3 separate regions of the Homo sapiens genome follow, and regions 1 and 3 are each linked to region 2. Evidence: fine-mapped expression QTL. A gene starts in region 2. Each other region holds a variant in brackets. All regions are shown on one strand. Distances are from middle to middle. Region 1 overlaps LRRFIP1 (LRR binding FLII interacting protein 1). Region 2 holds the start of RBM44 (RNA binding motif protein 44). Region 3 overlaps LRRFIP1 (LRR binding FLII interacting protein 1).

Region 1 (10,909 bases), 32 kb after region 2:
AAAAGTCGAGTGCTTTCTCAGCGTCCAGGCCAGCTGCAGGTGTGTTCAGAGGCGGTTTGCCAGCTTTCAGGGAGTTGGTCTCTAGCTAGCTTTCCCCTCTCTAAGCAAGACAGAAACATGTCCAGTTGTCCCTTGGTATCTGGGCGGGGGGGGGGGGGGATTGGTTCCAGGACCCCTCAGACACCAAATCTGTGGATGCTCAAGTCCCTGATATAAAATGGTGCAGTATTTGCAGAAACCTACCTGCATTCTCCGGTACACTTTAAATCACCTCTAGATTCCTTTTAATACCCAACGCCTACAACTCACTTCATTTGTGTGGATTCAGTGCAGGACTCCGTGCAGGGCAAATTCAAGCTATGCTTTTTGGAACTTTGCGGAATTTATGGGTTTTTTTTTTTTTTTTTTGGAATATTTCAATCCATGTTGGTTGAATCCACGGATATGGAACCCATGGATATGGAGGGCTGACCGTATAGTTGGAATTGCAGTTAACAGTCAATGACTGCAGAACTTTCTGGCATCTAGTTCGTGGGGTCTCCGGGGGCTTTTCATGTTTAACTTCCAATCTGTGAAGAATTGTTGCAGGTGATCACCTGCCTTCCTACCCCACACACCAAGCACAGGAGACCCCTGATTAACAACAAACCAAAAGTGCATGCTGCTTTAAGGAAGTAAGGATAGAACTCAGGAATGCAGTTTCAAAAGATCACAGGAACTTCAAGAGAATCTTCCTACCATATTTAGTGCTTTCTCCAATTTTCGGAGAATCTTCAACAGAATGGTAGGAAGTAAGGCAAATACATTTGATTAGGCTTATGAGGAGAAATTAGAGGAAAGTGGTTGTAGAGTGATTTAATCACTATCCTGCATATAAAAAGATCAGATAGGATAACTGTTCAGTGTTTCTTTGTTTTTGAGATGGAGTCTTGCTCTGTCACCCAGGTTGGAGTGCAGTGGTGCGATCTCGGCTCACTGCAACCTCTGCTTCCCGGGTTCAAGCGATTCTCCTGCCTCAGCCTCCCCAGTAGCTGGGATTACGGGCGCGCACCATCACACCCGGCTAATTTTTGTATTTTTAGTAGAGACGGGGTTTCACCATGTTGGCAGACTGCTCTTGAACTCCTGACCTCAAGTGATCCGCCCGCCTTGGCCTCCCAAAGTGCTACGATTACAGGTGTGAGCCACTGCACCTGGCCTGCTACTTCTTGAGGTAGGAGAGAGCAATGAAGATAAACATGGTTAAAACAACTTTGTTTAGCTGTAACAAAGAAACACCTGTGAGAGAGGGGTGCTGATCACCAAGAGTACAAAACTGACTTTTATGGACAAACAACCCATATGGACAAGAGAAGTGCTATTTGGAATGACTCAGTAATGCTCTTGTCTCTCAACAGTTAATCATTAATATTATTAATAATCAACATTTATATTTATTTTAAGCAGCAATTCAGTAAAATGTACCAAATTCAATTCCATGGCTTTGGGTCTTTGAGACATCCTTATTAAACCTCATATGACTCAGGATGTTCTCTTTGGATGAAAATATTAACTTTGATGTTCTATTTGGATAGCAATCTTAAGAACACCAGTTGGCTTGATAAAGACTTTCAGACATGATTAACTTAGGGGTTTTCTGAGTAAGCAAGAAGGAAGGATGGGCAGGTGGTTTCAGGTGCCCTGTTCATGAACCGGTAAAGTAATAAAAAGATTGTTACCTGTTCCAATAAGCATTCCCGTTCATCAACCAGCTTTTTCAACCTAATATCTAAAGAAATCACAAAGACACAGGTTTAGGTGAATCCGCGTGCCGCGCCTTTCAGCACATTGCTAAACTGAAGAATGATCGTTCAGGTTAGTGAAATGAATGATGGAAGTAGTTATACACGTACCACGGTGAATGAGGCCACAGACAGGACGGGGTGAATGAGGCCACAGCCAAAGGAGGTTGGGTCAACCTCCCAGAACATGCTTCACGTCAGGGGCAGCATCCGGCTGCATGCAAACAGGCTGCTAATCTTCTACCTTAGGTTAGCATGCAAGAACGCTAGGGCCAAACCACGCTGCAACACAAGATCTCACAGGCTTCATGGTTTAACATTATTAGCAATGTACAAACACCGAGAATCACAATTCAATAGCACCAACATTTTGAACAGCCTCGCCTTTCCGAGTTTACATCCCAGATGTATTTATCTTTCTAATTTCCCTCATAGACTCATCGATGTCAGTGCCATGAGTATCTGTTTACAACCCTAAGTCCACTAACACCTCTGCTAACCCAGTTACCAAAGCTGTTATTCTTTTGAGGAAGAAGGCAGTAATGGTTTAAGTGTCTGTAATTCCTCCTGGACCCGATATATAAGGATGCATAAATGTTAAGTGTCTATAAATTCCCCAAACATCTCTCTGAACGAGTGTCAAGTATTAGAGTCTTCAGACTGCGGGGGAAACCACGGCTAGGGGAGGGTTTAGAGGTTTGGGCAAAATCCCACACTAGTTTAAAGGCACAGTCAGAATGCTGGAGTGATGACAGTGATGATAACGTATGCTGCACACTCGCTCTGACACAGGTACAGTTCTAGCAGCTTCGACATCATTAGCTCGTTTCAGCCCCAGAAGCCCTATGGGTAGGCTTCATCATAGCCTCCTTCTATAGATGAGGCTCAGAGGCCCAGAACCACTAAGCAAGTTTCTTCAGGCCTTGCGGCCCAGCCACGGGAACACTCCCCTAAACACTGCACCCGCTGTTTTTCCAGATCCAAACTCACACGCCCGAGTCAGACCCTGACTCAAAGCTCTTAGCTCACTAGGACACTGCTGTCATGCGGCCTACCTCCAGATTCTTCATAGAATGAAAAACTAACCTTGATTAGCCATGTGAAAAGAAAATAATTCATATAAAATGCATCTTCATTTTCATTTAAAAAATCATCTAGCCACATGCTAATCCAAGTTACATTTTTCTCTAATTATGTTTTCCAAAGATCCTAAGTTGTTTTGAAAGGCACAGTAAACACCAGATAATGTTAAGCACAATATAAATTAAATTTATCATCCTTTTGAGTTCTATTTTAATTTACAGTCAAATTACTTCTGACAGATGTTTTACTCGCTCCCCCCCATAACCCACCCAACATTGAAACAAAACATTTTTGCAGTTATGAACCTGATTCTTTTGCCCAATATCACTTTTCATTTTCTTACATGTTTTAATACTCCTACATACAAAAACTACAGGCGTCATAAGAAACACTGAATACACCAGAATGTGATCTTGAAGCTCAAGTATCTATTGTACAATTGTTATTGTTTTCTTCTAGAAAACTTCAAATATTCTACATAAGCACTAGAAAATAAGTGTTAAAATGTAATAAGAGTGCAAGCAAAATTGATATAGGTAATCTGACATTTAGTTGTATAGTGAGAACATTATAAATAGAGAAGAAACTTTTCAGGAAGAGAAATTCTAAAGGAGACTTGGACAAGAAAACAAGAACGAAAGAGTTTGAAGAAAATGGAAAAAGAAATGAAGCAAAATAATTTGACATGAAGAAAATAAAGAGTACTAGTTTTCGTAGCGTTAAAAACCACCAAGTCTATATTGTTGAATAAATAGTGGCACATCACC[G/A]GTAGACTTATAGTGTCTGTATAGCTGGGAAATTTTTCCCTGTATCAGCCACCAGCCATTCACATGTTGAAAAATATTTAAGAGAGGCAGTAGATAGGGACAAAAAGAACAAAAGGATTTTCCTCTTGAAAGACAAAGTTTTCTCCACGTACAACTATCACACTGAACAAGTACATATTCTGAACATAATACATGCACACACAAACACCCCTCCCTTTCCCTTAGGGGCCCAGACGTTTAGAACAAATCTTACTGTTGTGTTCCCTTGGCTGGTGGCCACGGGTGGTACGCTGTACAGGGTTGGGGGGTGGTCTCCCAGAAAGGGAGTCTATGAATAGAAAACAGGAGCCCCAAACCATCTAAACTCCCCAGAATTAGCATTCAGGGTCCTAGTGATAGTGGAAACTTAAGTGTTCAGACCATTAGGTCTCCGGTTAATTACAAATATGGAAAGTGATCAGGGTCACACATTTCTTTTAAGGTCATACATTCTTGAAAACTGTTTAAAAATTTGATTGCTGTCCCAACTTTGTATAACAACCTATAAGTAAAAATCCATCTTCCTCTATATTTTTGACATACACCCATAATTATACTTAATTATACTTTTGAAGGAAGATTTACATTTATATACGGGAGCTATGTTCTGGTTTGGGACTGAAAAATATCCAAGCTTTTTGATTTCAGGTGTCAGTAACCAATGTTTTTCTCTATTCTGTATGATAGTGAAACCCCAGTGGTCTAGGTTCGTCTGGGGATATGGCTGGCAGGCAACCTTTCAATTCTTTTCTGAGTTTGAATCTTTTGACACTATAATCTTTCTAAATTGCTCTATATATTTCTATACCTTCTTATATGGAGTATAGCTAAGTCAACTTTCTTTTTCTTTTCTTTCTTTTTTTTTGAGACAGGGTTTCACTCCATCACCCAGGCTGGAATGCAGTGGTGTGAGCACAATTCACTGCAGCCTCGACCTCCCAGGCTCAGGTGTTTCTGCCTCCTAAGTAGCTGGGACTACATGGGACTACATGCACATGCCACCATGCCTGGCTAATTGTTTGTATATTTTTTTTGTAGAGATGGGCTTTCATCATGTTGCCCAGGCTGGGCTTGAACTCCTGGGCTTAAGTGATCTGCCTGCCTCGGCCTCCCACGTGCTGGGATTATAGGCATGAGCCAATGTGCCCGGCCTCAACCATTTCTTGATAAGTTAAGGGCCTTCACAGTAATATCAATTACTGTGCTTGGCTATAAAGTCATTACACTGGAGAGCATATAACTGATGCTCAGAATGAAGGCTCTGAAATCATCGAGAAATGGTTTGGCTGCTCAGAACTCTTTCTTTTTCCTTCTTTCTTGCTCATGGATTTTCAGCTGTCCATTCCCTACTGGAGGGCTGGGTCCAACTGCTTGTTCACTGGCACAGTGCCTTCCATGTACAAAGTGATCAAACCTGTCTATTAATTAAGCAAATGAGTGGTGAATCACTGAGACGGCTGGATGGCTGAGCTGAGGGATGTGATGTGTGCCCAACGTCCTGCAGGGTGCTGGTGAATAACATGAGAAAGAACTTAAAATGGCTTGATGATCTCACCATTTAGTGACCTTGGTTGTCACACTGCTTTCCAAGAGCCCTTTAAAGGTAGGAATGAGAGCTGTTTCCAGTATGCATTCCAATAGGAATGCAGCTTTGCTAAAGTTAGAGACATAAACTAAAACCCTGTGAAGTCCTATAGAGCCCTTGGACTTATTTCCTAGCAAGCATTTATCATCCCCACCATCCTCTACTTCAGGACACTTGAGCAGAAACAGTCAAGGTTTTTGCCGTTTTCATCCTGCTCTTCAAAACACTGTAAGTAGTGGCGCAGGTAAGCACAGCCACAGGTGAAGACCGTTTTCAGCTGAGGCTGCACATCAGAACCACAGATCACAGGGGATGGTGCGTGACAATCGTCTCAGTTCTCCCAGTAATGCCCATGCTAGCCCCAGGCTCGATGCCAGGAGGGAAGTGCATTCCTTACTGAGGGAGGGCATCAGGCGTGGGTCTTCCACGGAACCCCAATAGGAATCAGCAACCCCCAAGCAGATATTACTCAAAGGTGGTATTACATACAACAGTAGTCAGACTCAGACTTCAAGCAGCCCAAAGAGTGGAACCACAGGCTTGCACAATTATAAAATGTTTTTATTTCAATTACATAATAACACGTTTTCCTCAAATTTTATTGAGGTTTTGGTCTTTTTGCATTCAATTCTATCTTGTAACAGTAATATGAATCCACATAATTTCATAAAATGTCAACAACATTCATAAGGTACATTCCTTTGTGATTTTATATTTTACAATTTTAAATCTAACTTTACAATTATTTTAAAAAATTTTTTTATATAGAAAACAGATATTTTCTTCAGGCAGATCAAAACAAGAATTTTCCAGTAAGAATATACTGGGACATAACAAATGAAAATATTTATACCAAAATACCAAAAGTGATTCAGCTCTTTAAAATATCCTACTATAGTCTAATTAGTAGCTTGTACAAGAACAAGTAACCATTTTTTACTGCTCTTTTGAATGATGATTAGAAATTCAAACAAAGTATTTTAAGGTTCAAAAACTTTTTTTTTTTTTTTTTTTTTTTTTAGAGACAGTGTCTCACTCTGTCTCCCAGGCTAGAGTACAGTGTGCAATCATAGCTCACTGCAGCCTTGAACTCCTGGCCTCAAGCAATCCTCCCACCTTGGCTTCCCAATGTGCTAGGTTTACAGGCGTGAAAACATTGTGTTGTGTGTGTGTGTGTTTTTTTTTTTTTTTTTAGACAGAGTTTCGCTCTTGTTGTCCAGGCTGGAGTACAATGGCTTGATCTTGGCTCACTGCAATCTCTGCCTCGCAGGTTCAAGCGATTCTCCTGCCTCAGCCTCTGGAGTGGCTGGGATTACAGGCGCCCACCATCACGCCCGGCCAATTTTTTGTATTTTTAGTAGAGACAGGGTTTCACCATGTTGGCCAGGCTGGCCTCGAACTCTTGACCTCAGGTGATCCACCTGCCTTGGCCTCCCAATGTACTGAGATTACAGGCATGAGCCACCACGCCCGGCCAAAAACATTTAAAAAATGACTGTCCCTGCTCAAATACTGCAGTAGGAAATGTAATTTGACATATATCACTTCCAGAAAAAAACTTTAAATCTTTCTATAAAATGAATTTGATACATCATCAGCATGAAGTGAAGTTAAAATCTCTTACAAAGTAAATTCAGGTATATCAACAATGAGATCCAAAAGTATCGGTTCAAGATCAAAGACTCATATGAGGTAAAGGCAAATAAAGCCCCTCATGCTTTCAGACATTTACTTGTTATCCTTAAAATGATTATTGTTCTAAGGTGCAAATCTTATCATTCAGTGACCTATTTGCTATTTGGCTGTTTATCTCCTTTAAATAAAATACCATACAGGTTATAATGTACATTTTAAAATCAAATATGAAAGTACACATATGTGAACAAGACATTAATTTAAATATCAATTATATTCATAATACAGAAGTCTAAGAATGCTATTTGGTCATTTCAATTAGATGCTGATATATTTGGTCAAGAAAACCCACATTCCTATCAGCCTAAGGCAAATAGTAAATGCCTCTATTTTTATTAAGTGGACTATAAACAGTAGACATTATTGTTTGATACTACTGGAATGCTCTCAATTAGAACGTACACTGATAACAAATATGTCTTTCTAATCTGGGTGATAACCTCAATGATTACATGGAAATCTACAAGTAACAGTCTATAACTTAAAGCAGTAGAGCACCTGGTAATTGTCATACAGTGCCTCTCTATGAATTTAGAACATTCTACTTACATTGGCAGTGGAGAGAAAAGACCCCTTCACACTGAGACTTCCTGTGCACCGCGCCTGCCGCCTGCCTCAGCTTAGGACATGGTACAGTCTTCTTTGCTTTTGCCCTTCTCATTCCCTCCTCTGGTATCTTCTCTGCTTTCTGGATTGAAGTGCCCTGGCTCTCTTCCTGGTGCCGACAAGTCATCGTTCTCTAGGCTATTGCTGTCTAAAGCTTTCCTGACGGTCTGACTTGGATGTTCTGACATCTCACACCTCTCTGTACTTTCTGCTTCACAGGCATCACTAATGTCCTGTGAGGGACTTTCATGTTCGGGCAGGGTGCAGCGATCTGCGTCTTCGCTCTTTGGTTCTGCAGGACTGCTTTGAGTGGCACCATCTATTTTAGCATTATCTTTTGCAACACCTTCATCTAATTCTTCACCACCAGCCCTCGGGCCTGATGATTGAACGGTGTCATCCTCAAAATCTAATGTGTCTCCATCAGCTAGTACCTCCTCAGCTGCTGTTTGTACATCATCACCTTCTTGGTCAAGTTTTCCATCCAACTTAATTTTAGGATTCTCCGGACAATCAACATTTTCACTGCTTTCTGCTGCAATTTTCTGTTTTGGATTTTCAGTCACCTCGTTTTGGGCTTCCACTGCTGACTTTCTGTCAGTAGACTTTACCTGCTCTTCTTCCTTAATTTCACTTAAATCTGTGTTCTGATACGTTAACTCTTTTTTAACATCTTTAAGGGTTTCTACGGGTACTGGGGATTTTTTCTTCTTGTTTTTCTTTTTCTTGTTCTTTGTCTTCTTCTGCGATGAGTCCAATGCCTCTCCCTGTTGGTCACTCTTTTCTTCATCGGGCTCTTTCATATCTAAGGGTTCATTTTGAGTGTCTACTGTACTTGGACCTGTCGCTTCCTGACAGTTGCCCTCAGTTCCTGCTGGAGAACCAGGAACTTCTGTCTTGATTGGTTTCTCGTCCCTTAATCCTGTTTCTTCACCCTCTTCTTCGTTGTGATCCCTACCTACTTCTGTACTGTGCGCTGGAACCTCCTTGGGCTCAGCTGCTTCCTGGTTGGTGAATTCTTTCTCTAAACTATGCCCTGTGCTTGTCTCTAACTCTTGGGGGACCTCTACCATACATTTGTCATCATGATAAACTGTGTCATCACTATGCCCTAAAGGACACGAGGCCACTGTGCCTGCCTGCTCTTCAACCTGAGTCACTGCTGCCTCTCCCACATTCTCTGTGTGGTTCCCACCATCTAAGTCACTCCAACAGTTGGATGGCTCAAGGGGAGTTCTGGTCCTGTCATCTGGTGCACCCATGACCTCATTTGACTCAACCTGTACTGTGTTTTCAGGGAGAGAACTGCTCTCAAGAATTTGGCTTTGAACCTGTTCCTCATAGGTAGCACCTGCTAAGGTTCCTAGGAATGGGGCAGTGTCTTCAGAGGATTTCTGGTCCTCGGTATTCTCACCAGCAGGGAATACCTCTATGTCCACACAGTCCTTCACTGTGTCCTCTGTGTGTTGTTCTTTCTCAGTATTGTGCAAGATTTCTCTTTTCCCCACATTCGCCACGATTTCATTTTTCACCTCCACTTCACTGGCTCTTCCTAAAAGACCATTGAGAAAATTGAAGGGACCCCATGATGTGGCGGCCACATAATCTACATTAGAATGTAAACACACGTTCCAAATCCCACCCACCCCTATTCCTAAAGACAGAGTCATCAAAGAGTCATGAGAAACAAGCCTTTGCCAGTTCTGTGCGGCAAAGCAGCAGTTGCATTAGTAAATTTTGGGTCAGTGAGGGCCACTGCCACCACATCAAAGGCCAGAGTGGCTGCTGGTGCCATCTTGTGTGGACAGATTTTTAAAGGTGACGTTAAGTTTCAACAAATAGAAAGAACTCTGGATCAGGCAGCCAAACAATCCACAATGATGGGTTTAGGAACAGACTGAAGGTTCAATTCCCCACTCTCACTTCTCAATGAACAACTTGACAACTTGTACTTTTGCAGCTGTCAAACTGCACTCCATGTCACACAGCCCTAAAAGCAGCTTTCAAGTAATTTTTAAAAAGAATATTCAGTGCACTTTTAGAAATGCAGCCTCAAGGTCAGTCTCAAGGAAGATGCTTTTGAAATAGCTCATATGAAAGGAAATCTATCTTCTGCCACTCAACTATTGTTTTCCTGAGAAAACACCCTGTGTCCATGCCCTGATACCTCTGCTCCATTCCCTAAGGGACTAGGGAGAGAGGACCAGCAGGAGGCAAATGTTCAAGATCAAGATGACCACTAAATTAAATGATAAATTATTCATCGTCTAAAGAACATCAAACTGTTTTGGAATTTTTGGACTCTCCAAACAAAACCCCAGCAGATTAGATATGGTACTATGTTACTGAAAGTCAAAGCTAGATAATTTTATAGCCCAGTGATCTCCATGGTGGGGTGCCCATATCCCAGGGAAAATGGGGGAAATATTAGGAATTCTATTTAGAGTTTTACTCTAAAACTTCTTTGCATATCTTTGCATATATTTTATAACGTACATTTTATATTAATGAAATAGTATACATATGTAGATTTAAAATAAACATACATATTGGATCCTACAATTCTTTGCTGAAGGAATATGTGATCAAAAGTCATTTGAAGGCCACTTTCAAAACTGACATTTCTGGTTCTTACAACATTTCACAATGGTTATCAAAGATTTATAAAATGTGTATTTGAGTAAGAGCAGCGTAATCAGATTCCTAGCTGTTCGGGTAGCTCATATAAAGGTATGATGGAAATTGATTAATTTATCTTTTCTCAACAACGGTATATAGATACTACATACCTATCTAGAGACGGAATCTTGCTAGGTTGCCAGGCTGGCCTGGAATTCCTGGTCTTAAGTGATCCTCCAGCCTTGGCCACCCGCAGCGCTGGGATTAGAAGTGTGAGCCACTGCACTAGGCCACAACTTTTTTTACACAATTGAAAAGAGCTGTGTTTCTTTAATAGTCATAAAGATAATGAATGAGGTACCTCCCTGGAATGCGAGGCCTGAGAAGATGGGGCCTGGAGGTGTCTACATTTCCATAAATAAAAAGAAATAAGATGAAAGCTTCTACATTAAAATGAAAAGTCACGGACCCTGACCTTATTCCAGCCTCTTTGTAAAACACTGGAACGCAGAGGGTGACCAGTGACAGATGAGGCCTCACTTGCACGCTGCAACTTCAGGCTGCACGCCAGAATCTGAAGGTTTCTCCCAAAGCCAACTCTTATGACAAATTATGACAAATCAGATCATTGAAAATGGTATAAAATATTCCTCTGATCTACTGGATTCCCCAGTTTTATATTCTTTCAGAAGCAAACACGTGGCATACAAAGGAGGATCCCCTCTGACAAAGGT
Region 2 (10,909 bases):
GTGAGTGAGAGAGAAAGTATGTGTGTGTGTGTGAGAGAGAGAGTATGTGTGTGTGTGTGTGTCTCGCTCTGTCACCCAGAGACAGAGAGACTGTGTGTGTGTGTGTGTCTCGCTCTGTCGCCCAGGCTGGAGTGCAGTGGTGTGATCTTGGCTCACTGCAACCCCTACCTCCCAGGTCAAAGTGATTCTCCTGCCTCAGCCTCCTTTGTAGCTGGCACTACAGGTGCACACCACCACACACAGCTAATTTTTGTATTTTTAGTACAGATGGGGTTTCACCATGTTGGCCAGGTTGGTCTTGAACTCCTGACCTCAAGTGATCCACCCGCCTCGGCCTCCCAAAGTGCTGGGATTACAGGCATGAGCCAGTGCACCTGGCCAAAATGGCTTTTAAAAGAGTGCTAACACCAGATATTGGTGAGGATGTGGACAAACTAGAATTCTTATACATTGCTTGAGGGAATACAAATTGTTAAAACCATTTGGAAACCGGGCAATTTCTAATGGTGTTAAATACATGTCTACCCTATTACCAAGCAATTACATTTCCAGTTTCAGAGACGAATACCTTTCTTTGGAGAATCACTCTTTAATATATTATTCAGTAATGACTGAGCCTGTTTTCTAAGTTATATGTTAAGTGTTGAGGACAGAGAGGTGATCAGTCACTGGCTCTATGAAGCACAACAGGCATACAATTTCCAAAAGGGGGATGGATGCACATAAATCTTCTATAAATTTAGAGTATGTTTTCCCAAACTTACCTGATATAAGAATCACTTAGGGCGCTCATTAAAAATATAGATTCAACAGCCTAATTTGGGGCCCAGAAACAATACTCGAGGACAACAGTCCACAACCTTTTTGGTACCAGACACCGGTTTTGTGGAAGATAATTTTTCCACGGACCAGAGGATTGGAGGTAGGGTAGTGGCTTCAAGCTGAAACTGTTCCACCTCAGATCATCAGGCATTAGTTAGATTCTCATAGGTAGCACGAAACCTAGATCCCTCACATGCACAGTTCACAACAGGGTTTGAGTTCCTATGAGAATCTAATGCTGCTGCTGATCTGACAGGAAGCAGAGCTCAGGCTGGGGGTTGGGAACCCCTGCCCTAAGTAATTCCTACAATCTGGATATTTTGAGAAACACAAGGTGGTATGGGAAACATACAAGACTTAACCTAGTCTAAGGATTAGTGAAGGCTTTTCAGAGAGTTACTTAACCTCAGATCTGAATGATGAGTAAGAGTTAGCCATTGGGGGTAGGACTCATTTAGTATTGATTTTGACTGAAAGGATAAAATGTAACATGCTCAAAAATATATTTGGAGTTTTTCAAACTGCTAGTTGTTTTTAAAAAGCAATTAATTTTATGTTCAAATCCTTGATAGAAAAAAGGAAAAAAAGCAATTAAAAACTAAAATTCTCACCAAGAAAAATATAACCTGTACCTACTTTGGGATTCACAAAGTTAAATAAGACAATTGGGGTTAAATAAGACAGTTAAGTAGACAATAATTGTATAGCACAGTTGCATTAATAAAGGTAAGGAAAAACTTATCAAAAAAGTAAATGATGGTCAAGTAGGGGCTAGCCAGGCTAAGAAGAAGCAGAGAAGGGCATAGAGCATCCCAATTTAAGAGGACAAATATGGAATGGCTCCAAGTTAAGAGTCATTCCTTCTTCTTAGATTATAAGATAACTAGAGTTATTATGTATAAAAATGAACTGGTCTGGCCAGGTGCGGTGGCTCACAACTGTAATCCCAGCACTTTAGGAGGCCGAGGCAGGTGGCTCACTTGAGCTCAGGAGTTCCAGACCAGCCTAGGCAACATGGTGAAACCCCTGTTTCTAACAAAAATACAAGAAATTAGTTGGGCATGGTGGTGTGAGCCTGTGTTCCCAGCTACTTGGGAAGCTGAAGTGGGAGGATCACTTGAGCCCAGGAGATGGAGGTTGCAGCGGGCCAAGATAATTCAAATACATATATATTTGATACATTTGATTGTTCAAAATATTGTGTGTATATATTTAAGTCAGGGTCTCACGCTGTTGCCCAGGCTGGAGGCTGGAGTGCTATGGTAGCAACACAGCTCACAGCAGTCTCAACGTCCCTGGGTTCAGGTGATCCTCCCACCTCAGCCTCCCAAATGGCTGAACTATAGGCATGCACCACCATGCCTGGATAACTTTTTTGTAGAGACAGGGCTTCACCATGCTGCCCAGGATGGTCCCCTAGCCCAAGGGATCCACCTACCTCAGCCTTTCAAAGTGTTGGGATTACAGGCATAAACCACTGCACCCAGCCCGCTCTTCATATTCTTAAAAAGTATTGAGAACCCCAGCTGGGCGCAGTAGCTCACACCTGTAATCCCAACACTTTGGGAGGCCGAGGTGGGTGGATTACTTGAGGTCAGGAGTTTGAGACTAGCCTGGCCAACACGGTGAAAACCCGTCTCTACTAAAAATAGAGTGGGCGTGGTAGTGGGTGCCTGTAATCCCAGCTACTCAGGAGGCTGAGCCAGGAGAATCACTTGAACCTGGGAGGCGGAGGTTGCAGTGAGCCGAGATCATGCCATTGCACTCGAGCCTGGGAAACAAGAGTGAAACTCCGCCTCAAAAAAAAAAAAAAAAGGATTGAGAGTCCCAAGGAGTATTTTTTTTTATTTGGGTAATATCCATCAATACTTACCATATTAGAAATTAAAGCAACATTTTCAAATATTTATTAATTTATTCATAGAAAATACATTCGTTACTTAAGTAAAATTTTAAATTAAAAACATATTTTCAAAAAATTGGTGAGAAGAGCAACACTATCTCAAGCTGGATTCTCATTCACATCTGATTCTACACTCAAATCTGCATTTAATGAAATCTGCAGTGTGCTGCAAGCTTCATTCTTAAATATGAAGACACCCAAAGTTAAAAACGTTTGCCAAAGAGAAAATTTTAGTATAACGGAAGTACTTGCAGATCATGTATGCGATAGAGGTCTATTATCTAGAATATAGAAAAAACTCTTACAACTGAACAATAAAAAGGCAAACAACCCAATATTAAGAATGAGCAAATGACTTGACAAAGAGGATATACAAATGGCCAATAAACACATGAAAATATGCTCAATTTATCAAGAGTCATGAAGGAAATGCAAATCAAAACCAAAAGATATCACTTCACACCCACTAGGATGACAATAACAATAACAGTAACAACAGTGTTGAGCAGGTCATGGAGAAATCAGAACCTTCATCCATTGCCGATGGGAATGTAACATGGTGCAGCCACTCTGGAGAAGTCTGGCACTTCCTCAGAAAGTTAAACACAAGACAACCACATGATCCAGCAATTCCACTCCTAGGTACATGCCCATTTTTATTATTTTCTTTGAGTTCTCACTTACCGAACTATTTCCTCCAGTGCACGAAACTCCAGGGAATGGTATCGCCAGAAACCACAGGACTCGCCCTTGACACCTCCCTTATCCCTGAGGTCTTGTCAATTTTAACTCCTGACTCTCACAGCTATGCAGACAATCACCTCACATCTGGCCAGAATAATCTTTCTAAAATGCTTATCGAATCAGTTACGCTCCTGCTTAAAACTCAGCAACGGACTGTCACTGTTTTCAGACAGATTAAAATCTGAATAAGTCCTGTAAAACCCTACAACGGTCCGGGCTCTGTGTTAGCCTTGGCACTTGGTGTCTTCCAGATACACCCTCCTTTCCATTTCCTTAAAAAGTCAGGCCCTGGCCGGGCGCGGTGGCTCACGCCTGTAATCCCAGCACTCTGGAAGGCTGAGGCGGGATGATCACGAGGTCAGGAGATAGAGACCGAGATCGAGACCATCCCGGCTAACACGTTGAAACCCCGTCTCTACTAAAAAAATGCAAAAAGTCAGGCCCTGTGCGTTCTCTCGCCTGCCCACCCCCTACCCCACCTTGAGTTCACGCTCAACTTCAGATCTCATCTTAAATACGCGCTTCTTAGGGAAACCGTCCGGGCACCTCACACTAGGTCAGGAGCTGGCGCCGTCCTCCAGGGCGTCCTACGCGTCGGTCAGGGGCACACACGCCTGAGTACGGAACGAACTTCACGTCCCCCTCTCGCTAGAGTCCCCGCCCCGCAGCAGAGGCTCCATCAGTCTCCACGGCAAGAAGAAGCATATGTGCGAATTTCTAGCTTTCCCCGGGGACATAACCAAGTTTGGGAGACCGGCCCCGCGACTTCGTTCGAGAACGACTTTTGCGGTGTCGGCGCCCGCTATGAGGGCGCCGGAACTCCAGTGCCGCCCAAGGAACGCGCCAGTCCCCCGCCCGCCTCGCTGGCCTCGCCTACACCGCCGTTCGGAGTCCCCGCGTGCTTCAGCGGGACGGGCCTCGCCGCCGGGACCGGCCACACGCGGGGTTCGCCAACCCCGACCGCTCAAGCCCATGGCCTCGCCCTCGCCGGCTTCGCCGCCCGACCTGCCGCCCCGCGTCTCTGTCCGTCGCACCTCGGATCCGCTAGAAAGCCGCCGCCGCTGCCGCCTCCACGGGCCAGCGCCCCGCTCTCCGCAGCCGCCTCCGAGTCAGTGGCGCCACCGGAGCAGCCGCGGCGCCTGTTGGGTAACAGTCACCAGCGGCCCGCCCACCGCCTGTCGGGCAGTATGAAAAGTGCGGCACTGTGATTGGCCCAGCCTGTGGGCGCGAAAGCGCGGGAAGGAGGCCGCCTGCTTGAATGTTGCACGACGTAGAAGAGATTGTGGGCGTCTGTCTTGGAGCGCAGAGCGGCCCCCAAGACTTTCCCGCTTTGCAGCCTGAAACCCTCGTCTGGACCGCGCAGCTCTGCAAAGTCACCATATGAAAATACTTGGAAGCGCTGCTTCTGCCAGCAGAGGCCAGACTGCCCCTCGCTTGGGTCCGGTGCAGGCCGAGTCCTCCGCCCTCAGAGGCGGGACAGGGGCCCGGCCTCCTTGCCGAACTGTTTCCCAGGCCGCGTGGTCCCTCCCGGGGTTTGGCTTGTCCTCTGCCCATCTTCTAGAAATACCGTTAGCAGGGTCGGGCCGCGACTAGGGTGAGGCCAGTGAGGCATTTGTCATGAGCACAGGATTTCAGAGGCTGCCAAAATAGCAATCAAGATAAATAATATTTTAATGCAGTCTCTAAAAAAAGTCAAAAGTAATGAAAAAATTCAGTCCTATTTTTTCCTTTCGCCTCAGACTCTTAAAATGGCTCCACAGGGTACATTGTTACTGGTCCTGTCTTTATTTAAAATTTGAATATTCTGGGCTGGGCGCGGTGGCTCACGCCTGTAATCCCAGCAGTTTAGGAGGCCAAGGCAGGTGGATCACCTGAGGTCAGGAGTTCGAAACCAGCCTGGCCAACATGGCGAAACCTCGTCTCTACTAAAAACACAAAAAATAGCCGGGCAGGTGTGGTCGTGGACGCCTGTGATCCCAGCTACTCGGGAGGCTGAGGCAGGAGAGTCGCTTGGATCCAGGAGGCGGAGGTTGCAGTGAGCTGAGATCACCCTGTTGCACTCCAGCCTGGATGATGACAGAGCAAGACTCCGTCTCAAAATAAATAAATTAAATTAAATTAAATTTGAATATTTTATTATGGATTTTTTGCATTAATTTCGATTTTTTAAAAGATTGCATTAAAAGATTACTGAGTTTTTGCATCCCCTCCCCTGCCCCCCATGTTTTGTGCCTAGTCTTATCCTTGATAGGGAATTTAAACCTGTATAAAATGACACAGTCCTGAAGGGGTGGGGACAGGATAGAGCTGCAGGTGGCTTCATTTGCTTATTAGTCTAAACATGCACTTGATTGTTGGGCCACGGAGGACTTTGGATAGGTGGCAGATAGAGGAGGGGCTCTAAAACTGCACCTACCCCCAAATTATCCCCTCAAATGAGGCTGCAGTCTCTGAAATGCACTTCATTCATTCATTCATTCATTCATTCTGCAGATTGCTATTGGCCTGCCAGGGGCCAGGGGCTGAGGGTGCAGTGGTGGACAGTGGACCGTGAGCATGGATCTTGGGATAATGTAATACACTTATCGCAAATCTTGCCATTACCAAAAGTGCTTTCAAGTGTCTTTTAAAGTGATATGGCCTGTCCTTTTACAGTGGATTTCATTTAGAAGTCCCTATGTTATTGGAAGTTAACGCCAGTGGCTGGAGAGGGCGGCCACGGCAGCAGCAGGCCAGAGCTGCTGATGAGATTATGAGGTCTGGCCTCTGTTATAGAAAGGGGTTCAGATTGAGGCTCACATTAGAAGGCTGGACACTCTCCCCTGGGCTGCTGGGCAGATGGCATCTGGAGCAGGACTGGGCCATGGTGACCCTGGAAGGGGTGGCTCTGGAAGTGTGTCTGTGGGCCAGCAGCCCTGATGTCAAGACAGCTGGAAACCACGTTCTACTCTAGACCCTTGGCGTTTCTCCTTTGACTGCTCCACCACAGTTAGAATTTTGAGAAATTCCTCTCTGAACAGCCATTTGCCAAATGCTCATTTCACTGTTAGTCTCCTCTCCACCCTGTGGGTGGGTACAACACAGAAAGAGTCAAATCTTTCATTTATCAACCTTTTAAACCATCGAAGACAGTGATCATGCCATCCTTAGGGAGGATTATTGGGATTCAGGGAATAGAGATGAAATGTTGTGTTATGAGTGGATGGGCTGAGCACAGACATCACATGTGTCACCAGGCTACAGAAAAGGTAAGCTGTGCCGGACAGTGATGCTGTGCTTACAGGCAAGCCACTGAGCAGGTGGCAGGAGGGGCTGCCGGTTGTTGGCAGGGAGGCGGGTTGAAGGGCAAATGGGCTGTTTGCATGAGACACACCAAGCCTCCTGCTACGGCAAGGGGAAGAAACATTCCCACTTAAGTGACCTCAGCTGTTTTTGTTTAACTGTGGGATCCAGTGTCCTTGTTTTGCCTTCCTCTGGGCCCTTTGAGGTGTTTTGTTTTGTTTTGTTTTGTTTTCGAGACAGCCTTGTTCTGTTGCCCAGGCTGGAGTGCAGTGGCACAATCTCGGATCAATGCAGCCTCCACCTCCCCAGTTCAAGCGATTCTCCTGCCTCAGCCTTCCAGTAGCTGGGATTACAGGTGCCTGCCACCACGCTCAGCTAATTTTTGTATTTTTAGTGGAGATGGGGGTTCCACCATGTTGGCCAGGCTGGTCTCGAACTCCTGACCTCAAGTGATCCACCCGCTTCGGCCTCCCAAAGTGCTGGGATTACTGGCTTGAGCCACCGCGCCTGGCCTCTTTGAGTTTTTTTTGACACTGTCTCCAGATACTCCCCATTGGCCCTAGGGCATGGGACCCTTGCTCTTCTTGGTCAGAGTTTCCTGTGTCTGTGTATGGAGCTAGTGGTTCTGCCTTTTCTGCCAGGCAGCTCTGCCACGTTTGGACTTACGTAATTGATTTGGGGATTATATTGTTTTGATGTGAAATTTTACATTTTTATGAAATCCATCAGTCTCTTGGCTGGGCGGGGTGGCTCACGCCTGTAATCCCAGCACTTTGGGAGGCTGAGGCGGGTGGGTCACGAGGTCAGGAGATTGAGAGCATCCTGGCTAACATGGTGAAACCCCGTCTCTACTAAAAAATACAAAAAATTAGCCGGGCGTGGTGGCGGGCGCCTGTAATCCCAGCTACTCGGGAGGCTGAGGCAGGAGAATGGCGTGAACTCGGGAGGCGGAGCTTGCAGTGAGCCGAGACCGTGCCACTGCACTCCAGCCTGGGCGACAGAGCGAGACTCCGTCTCAAAAAAAAAAAAAAAAGAAATCCATCCGTCTCTTTGTCATTTATTTTCAGTGATATTAGAGATGCTTACTCCAGCTCAAGTTCAGAATAAACATATTCGTACAATAGTATTTTCTGTTGTTTTTGTTTTTGTTTTTAGACATGGTCTCACTCTGTCACCCAGGCTGGAGTGCAGTGGCACGATCTCGGCTCACTGCAACCTCCGTCTCCTGGGTTCAAGCCATTCTCCTGCCTCAGCCTCCCGAGTAGCTGGGATTACAGTTTTGCACTACCGCACCCAGCTACCATTTTTTAGAGATGGGGTTTTGCCATGTTGGCCAGGCTAGTCTCGAACTCCTGACCTCAAGTGATCTGCCCGCTTTGGCCTCCCAAAGTGCTGGGATTACAAGCGTAAGCCACCATGCCCAGCCACACAATAACTTTGATTTGTGCCTTTTATGATTTGATTTTTTACACTTTTTTTTGCTTATAACTTTGAAATATTTAATGTTATTAAAGTCACATGTGTTTAATGTAGAAAATGCAGGAAAGGGTGAAAAAGAAAATAGAAATCTCCTATAATCCCGTTTCTCACAGAGCCTCACTGTGGGTGTTTTCGGGGAGCTATCTATAGAGAGAAACCATGGAGCTACTCTCCCACATGGACTGTGATGCCTTTCTACATTTTTAACCTCTCTATTCAGGAGCCGTTAAAATTTTTTATTCCGCAAACACCTACTGAGGTCTTGCTCTGCATTAGGCAGGCCATGGAATGAAAAGCTTACAGCAGTTCTTGAAGAACGTACAGTATAACTGATACCACACAACTTAGTGGGGGCTAACACGTGTGGAATAGACAGGATGCAGAAAAGGGCGGCGTGTTTGTAGAGCAGTCTCAATAGCATGGAAGCCACACCCTGGGAATCCTCAGGGAATGCAGAAAATAAGGCAGAGCAGAGTAGCTGGGCCCTTTTGAGCAAGGCTGGGTCGCCCCATTGCAGGGGCCTATCCTTGCACCTTTGTAACACTGAAAATACCTGGCAGAGGCCCCCTCAACTGTTGTTTTATCAAAATCATCTAGTCTAGTTGCAATGTTGGTTTTTTTAAAACTTCCAAGTGAATATTAGAATAATTTTGTTGTTGGCCAGGCATGGTGGCTCACTGTAATCCCAACACTTTTGGAGGATGAGACAGGAGGGCTGCTTGAGGCCAGGAGTTTGAGGCTGCAGTGAGCTCCGTGTAGTGCAGTACATGCCACTGCACTCCAGCCTGAGCGAGTGAGATCTTTCTTTTCTTAAAAAAAAGAAAGAAAAAAAAATAATAATTTTGTGAGATTACCTCCCCAAAAATCTCAAAGGGGTTCTCATAAGAAATGTATTAAATCTGGCGGGGTGCAGTGGCTCACGCCTGTAATCCCAGCACTTTGGGAGGCCAAGGCAGGTGGATCATGAGGTCAAAAGATCAAGACCATCCTGGCTAACACGGTGAAACCCCGTCTCTACTAAAAATACAAAAAATTAGCCGGGCGTGGTGGCGGGCACCTGTAGTCCCAGCTACTCAGGAGGCTGAGGCAGGAGAATGACGTGAACCCAGGAGGTGGAACTTGCAGTAAGCCGAGATCGCACCACTGCACTCCAGCCTGCCTGGGCGACAGAGCGAGACTCATCTCAAAAAAATAAAATAAAATAAAATAAAAATAAGAAATGTATTAAATCTATAAACGTGAAAGTTATATCTTTATGATATTTATTCTTACCATACATCTTTCTACAGTTTTTCGTGTCTTGTATCTCAGCAGAATGTATAGATTTCCTAATGTAGGTTCTTCTATTTCTTAGGATTATTATTATTGCTTCAATTTGTGTGGGAGGCTTTTTTTGGGTGGGGTTTTTTTTTTTTTTTTTGAGACAGAGTCTTACTCTGTCCCCCAGGCTGGAGTGCAGTGGCACAATCTCGGCTCACTGCAAGCTCCGCCTCCCAGGTTCAGCCTCCCAAGTAGCTGGGACTACAGGTGCCCACCACCACGCCCGGCTAATTTTTTGTATTTTTAGTAGAAATGGGGTTTCACTGTGTTAGCCAGGATGGTCTCCATCTCCTGACCTCGTGATCTGCCTGCCTCAGCCTTCCAAAGTGCTGGGATTACAGGCATGAGCCACCGTACCCAGTCTTTTGGGTGGTTTTTGTTTGTGATTATGAGATCCTAATGAACTAATCTTTAGTTAGATATTCTAAATCTAACTGGTAAGTTTTGATATATAGGAAAGTTATTCATTTCTGAATATTGATCACATATCCTAGTATTTTAAGGAATTCTCATTACATCATCTGTAGTTTTGCAATTGAGTACAATACTTATGTTGCCCGTTTTCCAATATTTTATTACTATTTTGTGTTTTGCTGTGCTGTCTGAAACTTTACAACAGTGCTAAAGTTTAGGGCTTCAAGGCATCTTTTTTCTTCTGGATTTAAATGTAAATGTGTCAATTTGCTGTTTTTCTACCAAATGTGATGTTAACTGTTTGAGATAGTATTTTTAACAATATTGCAGAAATACCCTTCTATTTCTGTCTGCTTTGTCTTTATGAAATCTTTTCAGGATCTATAGTTTCCCATCTATATTGATAAGTAAGGCTGGACTTCAGCAGATAGCAGACCATCAAAACTCTTCCTGTTCTTTACCCTGTCCCCAACCCCCATAAACATATTAGTTTGGTCAAAAACATACTGAAGGCTATGACCAACCAAATCAATAACATAACAAATATATTATTCTCATTTATGAAAGTTTGCGAATCAACCCTTCTGCTTCTACCTTCATATATTTGGATAAACCAGCTCCAGAGAGAGAAGAACATAGGGCTCTAAAAGTAGGAAAAATGGTGGAACAAAGAAACCTTGATGAAGAGGGTAAGGCATGAGTGGTTCAGTGAATGAAGCTGTAGTTTTGCTGGTCGTCTTGAAACATAGTGGCCACACCTGAAGAACAGCTGAAGACCCTCCTGGGTTCATCCTCTTAAGCAGACATGTGCCTCACATGCCCACATCTGCAACTTCCAGGGCTTTCTGTAGTGAGAGGAGAATGGAATTTTGCTCTCTGGACTCTGAACAACATTGCAGGGAGGGATAGTGGGGGGTCCCCTGGAGGCAGGCTTGGGAATAGGAA
Region 3 (10,479 bases), 20 kb after region 2:
TAAACTTCAAATATTTTCTTTCTTTTTTTTGAGATGGAGTATCGCTCTGTTGCCCAGGCTGGAGTGCAGTGGTGTGATCTCGGTTCACTGCAAGCTCTGCCTCCCAGGTTCATGCCATTCTCTGCCTCAGCCTCCCGAGTAGCTGGGACTACAGGCGCCTGCCACCACTCCCGGCTAAGTTTGTTTTTCTATTTTTAGTAGAGACGGGGTTTCACCGTGTTAGCCAGGATGGTCTCAATCTCCTGACCTCGTGATCCAGCCGCCTTGGCCTCCCGAAGTGCTGGGATTACAGGGATGAGCCACTGCACCCAGCCAACAGATATTTCTAGCTCAGAGTTCTCTTCCCAAGTCTCTGATGTTCTTGTTTCTATGCCACCCAAGAGGATGGACAATTGGAAGAGACAAATCCAGCCACAGACAGTGCAACTTCACTCAGGGCCAGTGGAGCTCAGGACCTGCTTAGCATTTAGTGCACCTGGGGACCAGGTAGGAGCCATCCACAAGTGGTGATCAGAGCTATTCTGGCAGAGAGGGGAAAGAAGCAAGCAAGGGGGAACTGGCAGGGGTGGGGGGCTGGCCATACATGGAGATACACACTAGCAAGTGGTTAGGCAGCAGCATCGAGGGGCATGGCAGCAAGTACAGGGCTGGGGTTCAGGGACAACTGTCCAGTCCTTGAGTGATGGGAGCTAGCCCTGGAGGCTCCTGGACACAAGGGCAAAAGGCCCTGACCACAGAGCTGGAATCCTCTAAGCCTCCGCACATCCTTAACACTGGGTAGCAAGTGCTTCCGAAATGTGGCTGAAGGTGCAGGGAGCCAGGCAGGTCAGTGGACATCAGCTCTATCCCCTTCAGATACTCAGGCAGGCTCGGGAACACGTGGGCCACATCTGGCTCGGGTCATTTAGTGAAACACAACAGATGCTTCTGCCGGTTTGAAAATTTGCAACTGGCTGGCTCCACATAGCTAACAGCTGGCACTTCCCCACCCCTCCGCCTTCTGCTATGGCCATCCTCATGCATGGCTGTTCTCTCCCTGAAAACCACAGCCTCCTTAAGGTGTGCATTCTTCTGGTATTCCTCAAGGGCTCAGCACTGTACAAACCAGAAATCCAAATTTGCTAAGTAGTAACACATTTTCAAAAATATCAACAGGAACTTTTGATGCTTTAGTTGATATTTTGACTATGAAAATGAGGAATTCTAAAACACAAGAGAAAATAACATTTGATTGTAATTCTGAACTGCATTGGATTTTTATCTATTTATGTTATCCATTTATGATGTGTTTTGAGTGTTTTGCTCTATGTCCTAGATGTTATTTCATTTCTAAAAATGAAAATCATTCATAGGAAACATACAACAGGGATCCTGGTCTGGGTTTTCAACCATTTCTTTTCCAAATCTTCTAATTCAGGTTACAGCAGTGGTTCTCAATGGGAGGCGCTTTTACACGCCCCTCACCCCCGCAGTGGACATTTGGCAATGTCTGGTGATGTTTTTGTGTGTCATGACCGGGAGTGGGGTCTACTGGCAATGAGTTGGTAGAGTTCAGTGTTGCTGCTCAACATCCCACGGTGCAGGGGACAGCCACCCCAGCCACCAAGAACGACCCAGCTCCAGACGACCGTCGTGCTGAGGCTGAGAAACGCTAGGTTGCAGGGATGAAAGAAGCCAGCAACCAATTTCCATTCGTTACATCTGCAAAAAAAGTTTTATTTTACTAAATAAATTTAAAAATCGTGTTCTAGCTTCCTCTGGATTAGGAAGTGTGTGTAACATTGGTTTGCTGTTTCCAAAAGAATTGGTGGGAGAGGTAGAGACTGAAGGCTTGACTTCCTCAGAGCCACTGATAGGGAAAACGCCATCTTCTCAGGGCTGTGAGACACCTGGGAATCGATGCCTTGCAGCCCTGTTCTACCAGCTGGGAGACTTCTGCCAGTTCACCTTCCTGGACCCTGGGTCCCTCATCTGTAATGTGGATTTGATAACAGCATCTACCTCATAGAATTTCCGTGCAAATGAAATGAGTGAAAATATGTGAAAATTGCATGAGTGAAAAATACCTAAAAGCGTCAGCATGCTGCCGGCCGTGTCTGCGTGATGTGTGAGTGTTTGCTGCTGGTGTTATTCACGCATGACATAGACATTTTCCCAGTTAAACATGCTTGTATTCAGATGTTGTGGAAGAAACCTTAAGGATGAGACAAGGAACTGAATATCTCCCTTTTGCCGGTGGGCCCAGCATGGTCAGCACAGGGTCCCTGAGGGGCTTCGTCCAGCTTCCTTCCTCTTTCCTGTTCATACGGTGCCCGGGTGTGCAGTGTGGGTCTCCCAGTGGTGCCCACCTGCCAGCACATTTTGCTCACCTGTCCGACCCGTGGTTTCCTACTTGCCAGTGTTGGCCCCCAGCCCCCTATAACTTGTCTGCTTCCCAATGGGCAGTGGCAAATATCCTCTGCACAAGGAGATACAAAAATCTTGTGTATTTTAATAGAGATTTCATCTCTTTCTTAATGCAACGCAGCTGTGTATATCCTAGATCCATACAGTTCTGGGGGATGGACACTGGTGACCCCTAGCATTATGCTGGGAGTGTTTTCTTGATTATATACCCTGAACTCACAACCCTCACTCCAGCATTCTCCATGTGTTAAGACTAGATATGGTTTTGGATGATACTGACTCAGTTTCCACTTGCTAACGTCCCGAAAAGCTGACTGGCTTCACCAGCCATACTTGAAATACAACATATATGAACAGTCACTAAAAATCAGCAGGTAGCTAAACGTTTTTACTTTTGTCCTTGATGATATTGCCATCGTCTCTACTGTTACCTCCTCCTTCACTTCACTTTTTAAGTGCACTCATTCTGTGAAAACACCTTTTTTTTTAAATAGGGAAAGAAAAATGAATTGACTTGATATTCTTAAAAAATAAAAAGATGACCCAAAATATACAGAACCATTAATATGAAATTAAAGATCTTCTTTCTCAGTGGAAAAAAATTAGAACCACATTGCTGAAGTCTCTCAACATTTCATTTTTAATTTTTCTAATAGTACATTCTTTAAAAGAAGTTAACGACTTCAATTCCAAATATAAGGATTAAATAATGCAATGAAAAGCTGTCATTTTCAGTGAAGCTATTGCCTAATTACCCTGGAAAAAAGTATTCTTATGACTGAACTGATGCAAAAATCCCTTAGAAAAGCTTCATTTGTTGCCTGTAAAGAGTCTTCTTAAGGTCACTTTTACTTCTAGACTGCCCCCTTGTTTCCAGTGAAAGAGTTTTGCTTGGTAATGGCTTGTGGTTCCACAGTGTTTTGTGTATGAAAAGCGTAGACTAAGAGATACTACTGAAGTCGCTCAAATTGTAGATTCTGCCATGAAAGGAAGTCCCAACACTGTAACATTTCCCCTTAATCTTCAGCAAGACACATGAAAAAAAAAAAAAACTCAAGTCCCAACTGAATCTTTACTTTGATCATCACTTCCAGCGGCATTCAGAGGCTGCTGTGCGGTCAGACACAGAGCTCCCTCGAGGCCCCTGTGTGCTTATGAAGTACCTGCAGGTTCTGAGCGTCGGCGCCAGCCCGGGCCAGGGGTCTGCAGACAGAGGCACCTGGTGGCTGCTGGGGCTCCCTGGGGTGAGCCATGGCACGGGAGCCCCTAAGCGCCAAGCTCGCCACGGTCTTCGTCTCTCGGAAGGCAGGGGAAGAAGCAGCGCTCCCAGATAGGACAGAGAAAAGCCTATGAAACAATGCTCTCCAGTCACCAACCAGTTGCCTGATCAGAGCTGGAATTTACTGCTGGGACAAGAGTGCACTCCGATTTGCTTTCATTTTTTCCAGACGCTTCACTAAGTGGCCGTTGCTCACCTCGAGCTCTTCTGTTTTATCCAATGCAGAGCGGAGCTGGGAACGGAGGAAAGGCAGTGAGCTTTAAGGAACTTGTTTCCTCCAAACATAACAGGGTTCTGTGTTACCGAAATTCCAATCCTACTGAAAAATAAAATGATAACTTGGCCCCTGGTCCCTCATGATGCCCTTCCTCCTCTGAAACAACTGGACTCCAGAGAGGGAACACCCTTGGGGATCCTGATGGTTTTCTTTTTTTTTTCTTGAGATGGAATCTCGCTCAGTCGCCCAGGCTGGAGTGCAGTGGCGTGATCTCGGCTCACTGCAAGCTCCGCCTCACGGGTTCAAGCGATTCCCCTGCCTCAGCCTCCCGGGACTACAGGTGTGCGCCACCACCCTCAGTTAATTTTTTGTATTTTAGTAGAGACGGGGTTTTGCCATGTTGGCCAGGATGGTCTCGATCTCCTGACCTCGTGATCTGTCCGCCTTGGCCTCCCAAAGTGCTGGGATTACAGGCATGAGCCACCACGCTCGGCCTCTTTTTTTGTTTGTTTTTTTTTTTGAGACAAAGTCTCGCTCTGTCACCCAGGCCAGAGTATAACGGTGTGATCTTGGCTCACTGCAACCTCCGCCTTCTGGGTTCAAACAATTCTCTTGTCTCAGCCTCCTGAGTAGCTGAGACTACAGGTGCACACCACCACACCTGGCTAATTTTTTGTATTTTATTAGAGATGGGGTTTCACCATGTTGGTCAGGCTGGTCTTGAACTCCTGACCTCAGGTGATCTACCCACCTCGGCCTCCCAAAGTGCTGGGATTACAGGCGTGAGCCACACGCCCAGTGGGGATCCTGATGGTTTCACAAAAGGTAAGTGAGGCATGAGGTAAACAAACACAAACAACAAGAGCTGAGCCTGGACTGCATGGCGAAGGTGGTCCCCACAGCCCTGGCAGCCAGAGTCCAAGGCAGGAATGCCTGAGGCCAAGACGGCCACACCTGGGAGCCAGGGCCATGGAGCCTGAGAGTCAGGCAGAAGACGAGCTGCAGAAGCCACATTAGCAGGGCATCATCTGGACCCACAGGCAGCAGGGCAGAGTGGGGTGCCCTAAGCTGGGAGAACGTGGTTTTGGAGGGGTGACAAGAACAGGGTCTATGGCTCTGCTTTCGACCCAAAACACTCAAGGAAGCTTGTTTGGGTCCTGGGACAGAAGTCCCGACCCCACCTCACTAGCAGAGGCAGAAGCAAGCCCTTTTTGCAGGAAGTTTCCACAAGTTAAGCCTGGAGTTATTCCTACAAATTAAAATCAAGCATAAGCTCACAAAACACTAAGGTGACAAACCATTTGAGTGAGAGTCAACAGAAGCAATAAATGACAGAATTAGACCCCCAAAGACTGAGCATGTTTCAGTTGTCAGATACAGAAAACCAAACAGCTGTGTATGAAATATTTAAAGAATAAGAATACAATTTAAAAAGAGGACATACATGAACATGCAGCAAGAAACTATCAACAATGAAGACACTTTTTAAAAAAAATGGTGAACTGGAAAATCTTTGCAAAAACTTTAGGCATTATCCAATAGAGAGAGGTAAGGAGATAGAAAACATGAAAGAGAGATGGTTAAAAAATGTGGAGACAATGAGAATCTCTAACATCCTCTGATTAGAGTTCCAGAGGGGAAAGTGGAGAGACTAAAAAAGAGGAATTATTTAAGGAGTTAATGGTTGAATATTTTCCAAAATCAATTTTTAAAAAGACTTCACAGATCCAAGAAACACTATATATCTCAAGCAGAAAGATTCCAATAAACTACATCTAACAGTAAAACTGTAGAAAATCAAAGACAAACAGAACCTGAAAGAAACTAGAGAAGAAAAAAAAAGGTCCCTACAAAGGACCGACCGTTAAAACAACAACTTTCTCAACAGCTCAATGGAAGCCAGCAGATGGTGGCATAATCGCTATAATCATTGAGGAAAATGACCACCACACAGAATTGCATGTCCCTGAATACTACTGTCCAAGAACAAGGATGAAACGAAAACATGTACAAACAAAAACAGGGAATTCACCACCAAGAAGTCTGCTCTAAAAGAATTTCTACAGTATGTACTTCAGTGAGGAGGAAAATGATTCTAGTACAGTCTGAGACACTAGCAGGACAGACATATAAAATGGCCAATATGTAGTTATGTCAAACAAACATGGGCAATATAAAACAACAGCAACAACAACACAACAATAGTATTATCTGATAAGTGGGATTTATGAAGCTCAAAAGTATTTATGTGTGGATGTACATGTGTACATATACATATACACATATACACATATGTGTGAGGGTGTGCATGCCAGGCAGGAGGGTGAAGCTAAAGTGCTCAAAAGTCCTTCTATTTTATAGGAGGGGAGTAAAGATAGTGTTCAACTTTAATTTTTTTTTAAGTTAAATAAAAATACCCCATGTGTGATCACTGAAAAGAATAGAAATTGAATATAAAATTTAAATTTGGCAAGAGAAAAATGACACACAAAAGACAGAACAAATGGTTATCCACAGTCAGATGGTGAAAACGAGTCCAAATATACCAATAACAATGGACTAAGGGCTCTATTAAGATCCACAGATTCCAGATTCAACTAAGAGCCACCGCCACCTAGCTATGTGCATCTGAAGGAGATCATCTAACGCATAACAACACACGGAAGACTGGAAGCCAAGGGATGCAAAAATCAGAAGTGGACAAACACTAACCAAAAGAAAGCTGATGCGGCCACGTGAATACCCGACAAGGTCAACAGCAGCAGGGACCAAAAGGGTCACTACAAAGTGATAAAAGGTTTAACTCATCAAGAAGATATCAGAATTTTAAACATCTAGTATCAATAGCCTCAACATATATAGGAGAAATAGGGAGAATGAGATAAATCCACCATCATCTTTTGGAAGAGCTTGACAAATCTCTATCAGCTACTGAGAATTTAAGCAGACAAAAGAAATCAGATCTGAATGCACACTTCACAAGTTTGATCAGTGGAAGTATACAGAATTTTGCATCCATAAATCAGAGACTACACATTCTTCTTAACCACATTGGAGACATTTACAAAAGTGAATCATGTATCAGGCCATTAAGCAAGTATTGACAAATTTCAAAGACCAGGTATAACAGGGACCATGTTCTCTGACCATAGCAAAAGTAGGCTAGAAGGTTAAATGGGCCAGGCATGGTGGCTCATGCCTGTAATCCCAGCACTTTGGGAGGCCAAGGCAGGAGGATCACCTGAGGTCAGGAGTTCAAGACCAGCCTGGCCAACATGGAGAAACCCCGTCTCTACAAAAACACAAAAATTAGCCAGGCATGATGGTGGGTGCCTGTATTTCCGGCTACTCGAGAGGCTGAGGTGGGAGGCTTGAACCTGGGAGGTGGAGGTTGCAGTGAGCCGAGATGGCGCCATTGCACTCCAGCCTGGGCAAGAGTCAGACTCCGTCTCAAAAAAATAAATAAATAAAATAAAAT[C/A]AAATAAAATAAATAAATAAATAAAATAAAGAGGAGAGAAATGGCATCTTTGGTTTCTCCTCCACAGTCCCTTTCCTACAGTTTAAATATAAAATGAGTGATTCTTTCCTTTTTTTTAATGAAAAACGGTCTCACTCTGTCGCCCCATGCTGGAGTGCAGTGGCACGCTCATGTGTCAAAGCAGCTTTCACCTCCCAGGCTCAAGCAATCCTCCTGCCTCAGCCTCCCAAGTAGCTGAGACTACAGGCACGGGCCACCGCACCCGGCTAATTAGTTTTTTTGCACTTTATGTAAAGACAGGTTTTCACTATGTTGCCCACACTGGTCTTGAACTCCTGAGCTCAAGCGATTTGCTCACCTTGGCCTCCCAAAGTGCTGGGATTATAGGCGTGAGCCACCGCGCCCGGCCCGAGTGATCCTATTGAAACATAAATCAACATAAGCCACTCCTTTGCTCAAAACCCTGCAGTAGCTCCCACTTTATGCACAGGAGGATCCCAAGTCCTGTCCATGGCCTCCAGGGCCCTGCCTCACGGGCTGAGGTGCTCTCACTGCTCCCTCCACCCCCTCACCCCCTGCTCACTTGGCCTCCACCGCTCTGACTGTTCCTTGACAAAGGCAGTGCCTTGCCCCGAGCTCCCCTGCACGTGCTGATCCTTTGCGCGGAAGGCTTTCTCCCAGTTCTGCCTGGCTCACTCCCTGGGCTGTTCAGGCCTGTCCTTATATGCCACAAGAAGGAAAGTCTTCCTTGGCCACCTACCTAGAACTGCCCTGGCCTGGGCCATTCCGCACCCCAGCCCCTCTCCTGCCTGTGGTCACTTTTATGGACCTCCCTCTTCCAGAGCACAGGCTCTATGGAGGCGGAGACTCCTGTCTGTAAGGTCACAGCTGCATCTCCAGCACCTGAACCCGTGCCCGGCATGCAACGGGTGCTGTAAATATTTGTTGAACAAACAACTTTGCCAAGTGTCTTCAGTAAGGTAAAGTATGTGTTTTAATTGGCAAGCATGGTAATTTGGGAGTGTGACCAGCAGGTGGAGTAACAGCAGCTCGGCTTCTCAAGGGCACTCTCCATAGGGTGACCTGAGACAGCTGTGGCCTGGCCCTGGTGCCACACCCAGCTCTTGGCCACAGCAGGCCCATGGGCTCCTGGTCCTCCACCTGGGCTCATTCTGCATGACACAAAAAATATTCGGAGCATAAGAGGCCTGGCTACTCCTTTATCTCATTCTCTTGACGTTTACGGACAAGACCTATAGGAGATGCTCAAAACTGACAGATGAACTAGTTGATGCCAGCAAGGGTCTAGCCCTAAGCCCTAACTGGCTGCGCCATGCCTTCCTTTATTAAGACACCGGCACTGCAGAGTGGTGTGGGATGATCTGACAATGACCAGCCCAGGGGCAGATGTCACAGTAGTAAATCCTCTCTGTACCGTCCCCACTAGAGAAATACTGGCAGCCATTCTCTTCCTAGAAATTGCCTAGGAAATTTACCTCTCTTTGGAGTTTCCGTTTTTCTGCCTTAAGTTCATCTTCTATTTTTTCTGCATTTTCAGCCGCTGATTTGTAACGTGATACTTGACTCTCTAACCTTATTACCTAAAAGGTAGAAAAAAAACCATATGTATAAATTGATAAGCCTGTTTTCTTTCTTCAGTTTCTTTACTTTGAGATCAAAGAGTGTGATTTAATAAAATGGGAGAATACACCATGTAAATACTTATAACATTTTGGACTATGGTGTGGGTTTGAGCCAAGCAAGCTATTCTTGGTTACTATTTCTGGGCGACCCTGTGCTGACATGATGGGGACCCATTTCCTCTGACCCCGTCCACCAGGGTGGTTTCTGCAGTGCTGGCACCTTGCTGCCTGCTTCTTCTCCCGCTGCGTGGGGCTGTTCTGTTGGAACAGGCAGAATGGTGCTGGTAAGGGACGTGTTCCGCCACGACCTCAGCTCCAGTCTAATCTCTCCTGGGGTGGCGGGGGTGGGAGGAGGAAAGGACAGGGCGAGGAGTGAAAGGAGGCGGCTTCGGCATGGCATTCCCCAGCCAAGGTTCTGAGATGAAAGACGGCAGCAGCGAAGGCCTGCTGGACACCTTCACTCTGCCGCAATCAAAAGCACACATCGTCTCTACCTGTGCTGTTCTCATTTTTGTTTCTATAAACATTCTAAAAAGTTCCAGCCAAGTACACCCACAATGGAGGGGGAAACAGTCCTGTTTTTTTTCTCTCTTTCTGGCTAGAACACAAATTGCCCTAGGGCCCAGGGTGCTAGAGGCAGGAGTGCCCCATGTCTAGACACCAGGGAGGGCGGGCCTCGCTGCAAGAGAAAGGCTAAAAGCCCAGGCAAGAGGGACGTCCCAGTATGATGTGTTTTTTTAATTAGCTACATTATTTATTTATTTATTTTATTTTATTTTTGAGACAGAGTCTCGCTGTTGCCCAGGCTGGAGTGCAGTGGCGTGATCTCGGCTCACTGCAACCTCTGCCACCCTGGTTCAAGCGATTCTCCTGCTTCAGCCTCCTGAGTAGCTGAGATTACAGGCGCCTGCCACCATGCCCGGCTAATTTTTGTATTTTTAGTAGAGACGGGGTTTCACTATGTTGGCCAGGCTGGTCTCGAACTCTCGACCTTCAGTGATCCACCCATCTCAGCCTCCCAAAGTGCTGGGATTACAGGTGTGAGCCACTGCGCTCGGCCAATTAACTAAATTAATTTTAAAGAACAAAATTTTAAAACACTCCCAAGCCACATTAGCTATTTTCTACAACTAACTGTTGTTGATAAAGGATTAGTATCTACTGTAACAACTTAAATTCTAAGAATTCTTTCCTTCCTGCTTGCTCTGTAAGAAACGGATGGAAAGACTTGCTGTCTTAACTTATCCCTCTTAGGACATTTCTTGGTTCTAAAAATCTCGGCTTTTTCTGGTCCTCAGCCTTTCAGGGCTATTTCTAGCAAGTAAAACTCCAGTCAATCATCAGTTCTGCCCGTTGTTGCTTACACGTACATTTTGTTCTAATGCAGTTATCTCTTGCTCAGATTTTGCAAGTTTAAATTTGAGGTCGCTGATCTGTCTGTTGGCATCCCCTAAAG

Evidence for each region. PIP is the estimated chance that this variant, and not a neighbour inherited with it, causes the effect. A credible set is the group of variants that fine-mapping cannot tell apart.
Region 1: its variant is the best candidate, but not a certain one, in a credible set for the expression of RBM44 in sensory neurons (Schwartzentruber 2018, PIP 0.89).
Region 3: its variant is the best candidate, but not a certain one, in a credible set for the expression of RBM44 in subcutaneous fat (FUSION, PIP 0.57).

The regions. Positions count from the first base shown.
Region 1 is chr2:237,760,802-237,771,710 of GRCh38, reverse strand. LRRFIP1 (LRR binding FLII interacting protein 1) reads right to left here. Exons shown (of 24, transcript NM_001137550.2): 20 at 1,719-1,768. Among named protein-coding and RNA genes, the nearest start is that of RBM44, 33 kb to the left of the region's middle. RefSeq lists a silencer at 9,070-9,282. The variant G/A (reference allele first, on the strand shown) is at 3,632.
Region 2 is chr2:237,792,456-237,803,364 of GRCh38, reverse strand. It overlaps RBM44 (RNA binding motif protein 44), which reads right to left and starts at 4,586. Exons shown (of 16, transcript NM_001080504.3): 1 at 4,504-4,586.
Region 3 is chr2:237,772,860-237,783,338 of GRCh38, reverse strand. LRRFIP1 (LRR binding FLII interacting protein 1) reads right to left here. Exons shown (of 24, transcript NM_001137550.2): 22 at 10,394-10,473; 23 at 8,877-8,981; 24 at 1,696-3,917. The coding sequence ends at 3,807. Among named protein-coding and RNA genes, the nearest start is that of RBM44, 21 kb to the left of the region's middle. The variant C/A (reference allele first, on the strand shown) is at 7,381.